2 linked regions of the Homo sapiens genome follow. The protein of the gene in region 1 interacts with the protein of each later gene in a pairwise test. Each region holds a gene or a part of one and is shown on either strand. Other genes may lie near its edges. The genes, in order: ELF1 and HOXC13.

Region 1 (7,289 bases):
AACCATATTGGATTAGGGCCTACACTAATAACCTCATTTTAACTCAGTTATCTCTTTAAAGACATTCTGAGGTACTGGGGGTTAGCATGTCAACATAGAATTTTGGGGGATACCATTCAGCCTATAATAGATGATATTAAAGAATTACTGTAGGCCGGGCACGGTGGCTGACACTTGTAATCCCAGCACTTTGGGAGGCCGAGGCGGGCAGATCACCTGAGGTCGGGAGTTCAAGACCAGCCTGACCAACATGGAGAAATCCCGTCTCTACTGAAAATACAGAATTAGCTGGGCATGGTGGCACATGCCTGTATTCCCAGCTACTCAAGAGGCTGAGGCAGGAGAATCGCTTGAATCTGGGAGGCAGAGGTTGCGGTGAGCCAAGATCACACCATTGCACTCCAGCCTGGGCAACAAGATTGAAACTTTGTCTCAAAAAAAAAAAAAAAGATTTATTGTTAGTATATTTAAGATATGATAGTAGTATTGTGTTAGACATCTTTTAGATACACATGCTAAAGTATTTAGAGATAAAATATGGTATTTTAGATTCCTTCAAAATAATCCTGTACAGAGGGTAAGGACTTGAGGGCAGTGAGTGGGGTATGGATGAAAGAAGATTGGCCATTTGGTGATAATAGTTGAAGCTAGGAATGGGCACATGGGGATTCATTATATATACTATACTCCACAATTTTTATTTTGTTTAAAATTTTCATAATAAAAATATTTGAACAGATGCAGCGGCTCACACCTGTAATCCCAGAACTTTGGGAGGCCAAGGAGGGAGGATCACCTGAGCCCAGGAATTCAAGGCCTGGCTTGAGGAATTCAGGCCTGGCTTGAGGAATTCAAGTGAGCAACATAGCGGGACCCTGTCTCTAAAAAAATTTTAAAAATTAGCTGGGCATGGTGGCCTGAGACTGTAGTCCTGTCTACTCGGGAGGCTGAGGTGGTAGGATTGCTTGAGCCTAGGAGTTTATGGTTGCAGTGAGCTATAATTGAGCCACTGCACTCTAGCCTGGGAGACAGGGTAAGACCTTGTCTCAAAAAAAAAAAGCAAAACCAAAAAGATTTAATGATTTTATGAAATTTGAGGCTTAGATTATATTTTGAGCTGTCATCAAAATACATAAATTTTTTTTTAGTCTTGCCAAAAAAAATTAAAGTTGAATTTCATCAAGCCTCCAGATATGACTACTCAGTTAGAGGGGGTATAGAAAAACATGTTAAGCTACACAATAGGAATATAGTTGGCAAAATCCAAACTATGGGAAATTCTACATGAATAAACAGCCTGAGTTCTTCAACAAATAAATTGCAAAGTAAAAAAAGCTAGACAGATGAATGGCAACTCAGAAATGTAAAGAAAGTTAAGAAATGTATCAGTCAATTGCAATATGCAGACTTAATTTGATTTAAGCAAAAAACTGTCTTGTCTTTCCTTGCACTGCCACCATTTATGATTTTTTAACACAATTGAACATTTGAATGCTGGTTGGCTATTTAATATTAAGGAAATATTGATTTTTTAATGTAATAGTTTCTGTTTTTTTTTTTTAAGACAGAGTCTCACTCTGTCACCCAGACTGGAGTGCAGTGGTTTAGTCTCAGCTCATTGAAACCTCCACCTTCTGGGTTCAAACGATTCTCCTATCTCACTCTCCTGAGTAGCTGGGACTACAGGTGCGTGCCACCACGCCCAGCTAATTTTTTGTATTTTTAGTAGAAACAGGGTTTCTCCATGTTGGCCAGTCTCAGACTCCTGACCTCAAGCAATCTGCTTGCCTCGGCTTCCCAAAGTGCGGGATTACAGGAATGAGCCACTGCGCCAGCCAGGTTTGGTATGATTTTGTGTGTTTATAGTTTATATATATATATAAACTAAAATATTAAATGATGTATTCTGGTTCTAGAGATAAGCGGTGTATGACTTTCAGAGTAACAGATGTCTCGTAGTTAATTTAATTTTCTCTTTAAATGTGTTGCAGTTGAAGCTTCTTGTCATGACGGGGATGAAACAATTGAAACTATTGAGGCTGCTGAGGCACTCCTCAATATGGATTCCCCTGGCCCTATGCTGGATGAAAAACGAATAAGTGAGTGATTATGATTGTTTATGTTTATGTACTTTGTTAAGTTACTCTTGCCATCTTTCTTTATTAGTAAAATCAAGAGATTAGAAATGATGTTATATATTTTTTGTTACAATCACATTTTAAGGTATAGTAGGAATTGAGGTGCCTTTGCAAAAACGTAGAGTTAAAGATGACATTTTAATTTGAGAATGAAGCCTTTGGGAACAAAAAAATGTAATTTATTACTTACCAAATAGAAGATCATGCAGAATTTCTTCTCTTAACATATTGATGAGAGTATTAGGGTATCAAGGGCCCAAATGATTATAATTTAGTCATCTCTGTAGTTATCAGCAAATAGGCAACAATCTATTGAAAATTTTACTGACACATCATGGCATAAAATTCACTGCCACATTATTGATCTGCTTTAAAATTCCTGTTCTCCTTTGGGCTTTTCTGACAAGCAATCAAATTCATAAAGTAAATTATTGCTAAATCAGTCTAAAATGTTTATTCAATATTTGCTATATTCACAGCAGCAATAATTAGGCAATAACATGAGATACAAATGAGCAGATACTGTTCCTTTCCTCAAGCTTACAGTTTAATTTTGAAGACAGTTACTTATGTAAATAACTACAAAGCCAAGAATAAAGGCCACAAGAGTGATAGCGAATTGCTCTAGTAGCAGTGGGTATTCTAGCTGAGAATATCAGAGACTGGCTTCATTGAAGGAGTATTCTGACCTGGGCTGTAAATGACAAGCTTTTAATAGGTAGAAGAGACATGAAAGGTCATTCAAGCTGGAGGGAATGGAGTTAAAGATACAAGACACAGATCTGTTAAAAAAAAAATGAATGAAATCTTTGAGATCAAGATGTTTTGGTGTGGTTGAAGTGTAAGCTTCATGGTGGGTGGGAAATGAGATTGGAAAGGTAGGTTTGGAACTAGATTACAGAAGCTTTGTAAGGCATGCTATAGAGATGGGTTGTGATTATTTTTTTGTTTGTTTTTTGTTTTTCCTATGAACTATGGAAAGGTATGTCAGTTTTGTTTTTTATTCCCCTAATTTTATGGTCAGGTCAGACTTAGGTTTCAGAAAATAACTCTCACAGCAATGTGAATAATCAAGAGGAGAGATGAGACAGACTGGTGATAGGAAGTCAAGTAAGAAAGACATTGAAATAGCTCGCCGTGCCTGGACTGGTTTAGGGTATTTGATTTTGGGAAGGGGAACTTAAACGCAGGAATAGATTTCAAGATTTTATTTCTACTTTAATCTTCTAGTCATAATAGAAACAAGAAATTTTCTCAATCGTTTTTTAACTTATAATACACAGTGGACTATAATTAGTTGATTTTATTTTCATTAGATAATAATATATTTAGTTCACCTGAAGATGACATGGTTGTTGCCCCAGTCACCCATGTGTCCGTCACATTAGATGGGATTCCTGAAGTGATGGAAACACAGCAGGTGCAAGAAAAATATGCAGACTCACCGGGAGCCTCATCACCAGAACAGCCTAAGAGGAAAAAAGGTAGGTGGGTTACTTTGTTTAGGGCGCATAGTCAAGTCTTGGTGTGAAATCTAGATATCACTTTTATTCTACATAGTTCTTTCCTGCTGCAGTTAAAACTTATGTAAGAAAAACATTGAAGGCACAAAATGGAAATTATGAGTTATTTCTTGGCCAGGCACGGAGATTCATGCCTGTAATCCCAGCACTTTAGGAGGCCGAGGCAGGAAGATTGTTTGAGGCCAGGAGTTTGAGACCAGCCTGGGCAACAAAGCAAGACCTCATCTCTACAAAAAATTTTAAGAATTAGCTGGGCACGGTAGGCACCTGTAGTCCTAGATACTTGGGAGGCCAAGGTGGAGGATCCCTTGAGCTCAGGAGTTACAGGTTTCAGCGAGCTAAGGTCATGCCACTGCACTCCAGCCTGGGCAACAGACTGAGACCCTATCTCTAAGAAATAAAATAAAATAAAAATAAATAAATAAGAAAAAGAGGTATTTCTTCATAGTAGAATCATTTCTTTTAAAAAATTAAAGTATTGGGCCAGGTGCGGTGGCTCATGCCTTTAATCCCAGCACTTTGGGAGGTGGGGGTGGGTGGATAACCTGAGGTCAGGGGTTTGAGACCAGCCTGGCCAATAAGGTGAAACCCCGTCTCTACTAAAAATATGAAAATTAGCCGGGCATGTTGACAGGTGCCTGTAATCCCAGCTACTTGGGAAGCTGAGGCAGGAGAATCACTTGAACCCAGGAAGTGGAGGTTACAGTGAGCTGAGACCACAACATTGAACTCTAGCCTGGGCAACAAGAGTGAAACTCCATCTCAAAAAAATAATGATAATAATTAAATTATTTTATACTTTTAAAAAGTTTGGTCTATCTTACAGAAAAGGGATTTTCCAACTTTTTAAAGCCTCAAATTTTTATCTAAACCCTTTTGTCCTTGGGTAAGGTCTAGTCAGCTTCCTTCCCAGGGGTTATTGTTTGAAAGCCTCCAGTCTGTACCGGTGATTCCAGTATAAGACTCCAGTTGGAAAAATACAATGGGTTGGAAATCAGCAGGTAAGTAACTGAAGAGGAGTATTTTAGGATGTGTTGAGTGGGAATTTTTAACTTTTTGCCAATTAGGACCACACTTGCATTCTAAAGTCTGACACCTTTTCCATTTTATTGCCTTCTGATTCTACTCATGCTTGCTTAGTATTTTGAGTATAATGTCTTGATTAATAGCATCACCACCCACCCAGTAACCTAAGTTCATGTGAAAGTCAGGGAAATTCCAAGAGCTGAAAATGAAGAGGAAAATAAAAATAGTAAACATGAGCCGACACTGCAGCAGCTCAGAAGGGCTGAGAAGGATATGCCGAGGGGCTCTGGTTTTATTGTCCGTGTTGAGGCAGAAGCTTAGGTCTTGGGCTACGCAAGATGGGGTATCGGACAGAGACCTCAGCATGTAACTGGGACCCTTGAAGGGATATACCCTCTTGGGGGAAAGAAATCCACCCATTGGCACAGACAGATGTCAAGGAAGCTTGGGTCCCATTCAGCCAGGCCTCTGAGTGGAGAAATTCTGGTTTAATTTCTTTTGGGTAAATACTTAGTAGTGGAATGGCTGGATCACATGTTAAGTGTACATTAAATATTTTTCAGAAACACAAACTGCTTTCCAAAAAATTTTTTCTCCATGTATTAAGGTGGGGCAGTCATAGGACTTGCCTCATTTATTTCCTGTCTCTCAGGGATCACTGGCTTTTGTTGACCGATGTCCAATTTCTTCAGTACCATTGTTTCATACCTTTTTTTCTGTGTTTTTAATTGTTTCAGGTGGGAAGATAAATCCATGTTCTGTTATTCCATCTTGACTAGAAGAGGAAGTTCCCACCTAGTCTTTTTTAATAGCCTTATTCTTCGACCATGTTTTTGTTCTTTTGCTTTAAAACCTCTAATCATACTATGTAAAGTTTCTATTTAATAATTCTGTTATGTGTGATTCTTAGAGAACTAATCCTAGGGTTTCCTAGTCTACTGCTTCTCACTCAGAAAGTGTCTTCCTCATGTATTCTGTGATACCAAAATGTGAGTTCAGCTTCAACGGGGCTTTATCTGAGGAAATCTTGTATGGCCTAGGTTGAATGTATAACCCACCTGAGCAATTCTATAAGAGCTTCTGCCTGGTGCCCCATAGTTATTACAGTCCTGGGGCTACATCTGTGTTAATTACTTGGCTGGCAATTCCTAATGTTAGTGGTAGTTTAAAATCTAGTTGTAAACCCAGGTTAAGACAGGCCCAGGATTAACTATGTTTATAGAAAAATTTGTACATAAATGGCTGATCTCAACTCATTGCATCCTCCACCTCTTGGGTTCAGGTGATTCTCCTGCCTCTGCCTCCCAGGTAGCTGGGATTAAAGGCATGTGCCACCACACCTGGCTGATTTTTGTATTTTTAGTAGAGATGAGGTTTCACCATGTTGGCCAGGCTGGTCTTGAACTCCTGACCTCAAGTGGTCCACCGCCTCGACCTCCCAAGTGCTGGGATTACATGGATGAGCCACCCTGCCTGGCCATTTATGTACAAATTTTTCTTAAATATGTAGTATTTGTTTACCCAGTCAGCAGTTAATGGGATTTGGGTTGTTTGTAGTTTGGGGCAACTGCAAATAATGCTGCTAAGAACATTTGTGTATCTTTTTTTTTTTTTTTGAGATGGAGTCTCGTTCTCTCACCCAGGCTGGAGTGCAGTGGCACTTTTATCAACACAGTAAAAATACCACTCAACAATAAAACAATATACGATTGGTACATTCAACAAAAATGGATGAATCTCTCAAAATAATTGTGCTAAAAGAGGGAAGCCAGAAGAAAAAATATGTTTCTACAGTTTACCCCCAAACAATGTGGGGGTTAGGGCCGTCAGCCTCTGCAGCCAAAAATCCATGTAAAACTACAGGCGAGCCCCACCATACCCAGCTAATTTTTAATTTTTATTTTTGTAGAGGTGGGTCTCACTATGTTGCCTAGCTTGGTCTTAAACTTCTAGGCTCAAGCATTCCTCCTGGTTTGGCCTTCCCAAATGCTGAGATTACAGGTGTGAGCCACCATGCCTGGCCAAAGGTCTTCATGCTTGTTGTGTTTATGTTGGCTAGGCTGAGGAGGGAGGAGGAAGAAAAGGGTTTGGTCTTGCTGTCTCAGGAGTAGCAGAGGTGGAAGAGATGGAGGAAGTGGAAGGGGAGGCAGGAGACACAGGCACACTTGATGTAACTTTATTGAAAAAAGATCCCTATATAAGTGGGCCTGTGCAGTTCAAAGCTGTGTTTTGTTTGAGGGTCAGTTTTATTTTTATATAAAGCTCTAGAAACTACCAACTAATCTATAATGACAGGAAACAGATGAGTGGTTGCCTGTGGATTGGGCAGGGTGAGGAAGGGCGAGATGTAAGGATTACAAAGGGGCACAAAGTACTTTTGGGGTGATGAATATATTCATTGTTTTGAATGTAGTGGTGGTGTTAGTATACATAGTCAAAACTTGTCAAATTGTAAACATCAAACATACGTAGTTTATTATATGTCAGTTATACCTCAATAAAGCTGCTTAAAAAATAAAAGGCTAATATCCTACTTAATGTTGAAAAACTATTGGTATGATAAAGAACCAAATGGAATTTATAGAAATAAGAAATGAAATTG
Region 2 (5,503 bases), on another chromosome or scaffold:
AACATCTCAAAGATTCCTAGGACACAAAACAAAACAAAACAAAACAAAACAAAACTCCACTAAAAATAAATACTTTTTTGATCACAGCCTCCTAGAGAAAAATATCTTTGAAATAAAAAAAGTATATCCCAATTGAGATTTAATACACTTGCAAATTATGGCATGGAAATGGATATAAAACCTAGCATGCCTCAGCAGCTATGTGCTCCCACAATCCCCGTGTGGAAATAGAATTGGGCTGATGTATCTCAGTGAGTGCAGAGGTACAGACAAGAGGCAGACGAATAAGAAATTATCTTCAGACACTCTCCATCTTTCTACCCACTCAGAGATCTTTTAGAAGTAGTGAGATTTCAAGATAACTCTGTCTGTGCAATTGTGGTTTGTTCGGCAACATGTAGGCATAAACACTGCTGTCTCTCTACAGTGCCTCTGGCTCTGAGAATCCTCATCTGTGGTAGTCTGGGCTGGTGTGGGAGATGGAGGCAATTGTTCAGCAAGATCCAGATAATTAGGGCCAAGATGTGTCGTGGCTTCTTCCTTCTCCCAATTATACAGACTCTTGCTTTATTGCTCTGGTTTTTTTTTTTTTCTCCCTACGGTGAGTGTAGACTTTTTTTTTTTTTTTTTTTTTTTTTTTTTTTTTTTTTGAGAGAGAGAGAGAAGCAGAAATTCCAGGAGAGAATCAGAAAGGGAGAAAAAGAGAGATGGGGTTTAGGAGAGAGAAAGAGGGAGAAAGAAACAGTGGGCTATTTGGACCACACTAGAAGTCTTTACTGACAAGCCTTTGGATTTGGGTTGGGAAGAGTAGCAAGCTGGATTTCTAGCTGGACAAGGCACTCTTCAGAGCCCAGAGCTTGCCTGTGGGGGGGCGGGTGGTCAAGGGTGGGTGGGCTGTGGGGAGCTGAACAGAGGGGCCCCGAAGCCCAAAAAGAAAGCCATGGCTGAGCATTGAGATGATTTTTATTTACTCCTCAAAGGTGTCTATTAGGTTTCCAGGCATGAAGTCATTCGTGTATGTGATCTGGAGGGAGACTAGGGAAGGGGTGATTGTAAGATTAATAACTAAGCCCCCACTCACTTTAGGCAGTGTACGCACATCTCCAGGTCCAAGCTACCAGATGTTTCTTCATCTCTACATACCATTTCCTTTCCAGATAAGGCAGCAGACAAAGAAAGGGGGCTTCTTTGAGAAGGCAAGACTGGAGTTATTTCCCCAGGAGGCCAAACCAACCTGCAGTTGGTCTGATCCAGGACAAATTGGCTAAATCAATCCTTGGCATCCTATAGAGAAAAATAACCAGTTTAAACCAGTTGTCTACTTTTTAAACTGATTTTTTTTAGGGTTGATTAAATCTCATTGGAAATTTAGAGCTAGAATTTAGGAAACCAAAATTGGATAGGTAATTGTGAGAGTTTAAAGAGAGTAAAGTAAAAAATTAGGGACAATTATCTGGCTAATTCAGAAACAAAAACCCACCTTTACCCTACTGTATTCTTCTCCAGGGAAAAGGAGGTGTTTTAAAGCTGGATTGTATTAGCTGGCCTATTTCCATTTTAAAACTTACTGTATCATTTTAAGAGTCAGAAAGTCTGGCTTTAAAATCTGGTTCTGCCACTTAAGTTATTTTACCCACTCTGAGCCTCAGATTCCTAATCTTGTAAAATGAGTTTAACAAAATAATCCTGAAAAAATGTTCTGAGGATTAAAAACAACAATAACAACAACAAAAGCAACAAACTCATGGTATCACTACATATCCTCTTCATTCTATTCTTGTCAACAAATCGTCAATTTCCCAAATCATGGTTACCTCTGTAAGAGTAAAACAAATTTGAGAACTGAGAGATTTAAAGATAATGGTCGTGTTCAAAAACAAATCCTTTTTAACCTAAAGGATCCATACTGTTTAAATAAAGTTATTTTGTTTTTTAGATTTTTTTAAATCATAGTTTATTCTCACAGAGGCAGAGAAAAATGCCAGGTCCAACAGTTTTCCTGAGAAATTGTCACCAGAAGACAGTCAAATGAGGCCATTGGACCCCGTCTCCCATTTTCTTCCTGAGCATTTTGTTTTCCCCTGTGTCTCACTGTGACCACTACTCTTCCCATTGTGTATAGAGTCCATGAGAGAAAGCAGACCCAATGGGGATGGGTACAGGGAAAGTGTTCTGTGAGGGTGGGATGGGAACAAACATTTCAGAAAGAACTTTGTGTCTTCCCTCTGGGCTGTGTCTATAGTTTCAAAATGTGGTAGGAATGAAGGGGAAACCCCAAATATTCAGCCCTCCTCATTAGCTTTCACCTAAAGTCTAATAATTACATGGAAAAAATTGAGGGCTGAGCTATCCAGATAATCTCCCTAGTTCCCCCACTTCCCCTTGAAAGTGTTGCGTGACCTTTATTGACAGGGATGAGGGTGGAGTAGAAAATGGAGTTAGAAGTGATATATATTGGTTTTAGTTTCTGTGAAATTCTCAGAGCCTAAAGAAACAGAACTGGTAATATTGGTTTGGATGACAGGCATCTAGGGTTTAGGGTTATGGTTGGTGCAAGGGATGTAGACAGTTTCCTTCAGCTGTGAAGGAATGGAGAGGGAAGGCGGTTGGAACAGAATTTGTTCTGTTTTGGTGGGACTGCAGTGTGGACCCCCTACTTCCAGAGACACCTGATTCCCTATATCTCAGGTTCAGGACCCCCCACCTTGGGTGTTAGGTGGTTCATAACATTGGACCCCAATTCCTAGAGTGTGGACCTCCAAGCAGGCTGGCTTCACCTGGACACTTATCTTCTATCTGTGCCTCACATCCCTAACGTAGGGCCAGTGTCCAAAGGCGTGAAGACTCATCTGGTGGTCTGGGCCCACTGAAGCTGACCCCCTGCCTGCCATGCCCTCCCTGAAATATACAACAGAATGTCTTCCTCTGGCAACGGGGCAGAATATAAACTAATAAGGACCCAAGCGATCTAACTGCAGGAAGGAGGGATTTTTCTGAATATCTGAAATTCTGCAAGCATGGCAGGCCAGGCTGGAATTTGGAGGGTCCCTTCTAAATATACAAGGATCCTAATATTGAGTGCTGTGAAGAGCCATATTGGGGCCTGAAACAAAAGAAAATCAGTAATACCGAACCCATGTTTATTTTTTTAATTGATATTTTGTTCATCATGGATGTTTTTGTATTCGTTTTGCTTTTTTAAACATTGCATTAAAATATCGTCTTGATTACTGAGTTTTTGGCGCCCCCTCCCTTAAACTTCGAGCCCAGTGGCCTCATCATAGTTGTGGTCTTGCTAAAATAACAGAAATGAAAAGCATTAGGGAGCTTCACTATGCAGTGCAATCCTCTGGCCCCGTTGAGCCCCTGCCAGAACTCTGTGCCTAGGCAGCCTCGGGTCCTCTATCTCAGTCCAGCCGCTTGCCTCACTTCTTCCCGCTTGCCTTATCTCCCCGCAGACGTGGTTCCCCTGCAGCCCGAGGTGAGCAGCTACCGGCGCGGGCGCAAGAAACGCGTGCCCTACACTAAGGTGCAGCTGAAGGAGCTAGAGAAGGAATACGCGGCTAGCAAGTTCATCACCAAAGAGAAGCGCCGGCGCATCTCCGCCACCACGAACCTCTCTGAGCGCCAGGTAACCATCTGGTTCCAGAACCGGCGGGTCAAAGAGAAGAAGGTGGTCAGCAAATCGAAAGCGCCTCATCTCCACTCCACCTGACCACCCACCCGCTGCTTGCCCCATCTATTTATGTCTCCGCTTTGTACCATAACCGAACCCACGGAAAGACGCTGCGCGGGTGCAGAAGAGTATTTAATGTTAAGGAAAGAGAAGAACCGCGCCGCCCGGAGGCAGAGAGGCTCCATGGCCGTGCTGCTGGGCCATCCCCAACTCCCTATCCCATCCCCAGCCTCCACCCCCATCCAGATGGGACTCACGTGGCTTCAACAGCTTTGGAAATGGGTCCCGAGTGGGCCGTGCGAGGAAGGCTGTCGACCTCTACTCCTCCTTGCGCTCACCTTGCCAGAAAGTCTGGTGGCAGCGCAGAGCCCAATCATTCCAACCAAAGCAGGGTTGGGGAATCCCGAATGGCCCCAATTCTTGCCTCATCCTATGACCAGGCTTTTAGAGGACCTTCCCTAAGGGCGCAGCTTCGGAGCAGGATCTGTCCAGCTCATACTTTCCTTCGCTGTCCCTCCCGCACTCCTTAGGCAAGATTTCCCAGTAAAGATTTTCTGTGCGTATTTTAAAAGTCGTGTTAATACTCATGATAATTATTAGGGACCTGGCAGCGTGATTGGAGTATGGATGTTTCCGTAAAAGCTGGAATTCCGTAAAAGCATTGACGCAGCCCCTACACTCCATCCCAACCAAGAAACTGCATTTCCTGGGGCCAGGTGGGAGCTGCCTTTGCCCCACTGCCTCCCCTGTTCTGCTCTCTCAGTCAACATGTGGAAATCCAAGGAGGACAAAGACTCCAGCCACGCTGCTAAATAGGGCTCCTCTCTCCTCTCTCTCTCTCTAGGTGGTAAGGTTGGGGATTAGTCCAGGTACAGAAGCAGAACTTTTTTCTAAGGATAAACATCTCTTCCAAGGGGATGGAGAGTGGGTCCCTCAACAAAGTCCCTGTCCAGTCACCTTTCCATCAGGGCACTAGCCCAGGAATGACTCCTCACACTTTCACCTTTACTGATTTCCAGAGGAAAGCTAGAGGATCTAGTTCAAGAGGCAAGAAGATCTGGCCCTCAATTAGCTAGATGTAGATGCTGCCTAACAGTTCCCTCCTCAAAGGCCACCTTGGTGCTGTGGGGGCCCCTTGCCTCTTCCCTTCCCACTGGTGCATTACAAAACAGTGTTCTTTTGAAATGTTCATCAGGAATAGGCTTTTTTAAAAAATGTTGTGTATCTGTATATAGTATTGTGATGTCTGAATGACAATGTACTGAATGCAAAAAGGAAAAAAACCCACAAACATGTTTTTAAAATAAAATATCTTTTTTTGCCTTGATTTTATTGCTCAGATTCTTTCTGAAGTCTATTCTGTCCACTGGCTCTTCAGGACAGTCTACTATGCCCTGACTCAGCCAGAATGATCAGGGGGAGGAGTATAGACATTGCTCCCAGCTGGGTAGATTCCAAACCCTTGTTTTGCTCCACTTAAGTTTTTGGGTTATCTATACTATCTATATAGGAGAAAACTTTCCATCCTGATGTCCAACTCAGATGAGTGTTTGTTGAGGAAGGAAAGACGTAATTGGTGACTGAAAGGCCTGGAGGCAGTGACAAAAATACATTGATGGTTACTTCGGTTAATAATTGGGGCTCAGATCTGGTTCTGGGTACTGAGAAAGTAGCATCCCAGCTGGGAACTGGATGAGGTAAATGCGGCAGCCGGTGGCAGTGAGGAATTAACCTTAGGCTCCTGGTGCTCTATTGCCCCAGAGGGCCCCGAATACCTTCAGCCAGTTCAGGACTGGAGTTGGGGCTGGGATGGGGTCAGCACAGCCT

The links.
Region 2: the proteins of ELF1 (region 1) and HOXC13 interact in binary tests that used the Homo sapiens proteins (3 or more experiments, as listed by UniProt).

Annotation. Positions count from the first base shown.
Region 1 is NC_000013.11:40,946,139-40,953,427, reverse strand, and holds part of ELF1 (ETS-related transcription factor Elf-1), read left to right. Parts: intron 1-1,991; coding exon 1,992-2,099; intron 2,100-3,454; coding exon 3,455-3,622; intron 3,623-7,289.
Region 2 is NC_000012.12:53,941,542-53,947,044, forward strand, and holds the end of HOXC13 (homeobox protein Hox-C13), read left to right. Parts: intron 1-3,458; coding exon 3,459-3,715; 3' UTR 3,716-5,003; downstream 5,004-5,503. UniProt on the Homo sapiens protein: Transcription factor which plays a role in hair follicle differentiation. Regulates FOXQ1 expression and that of other hair-specific genes.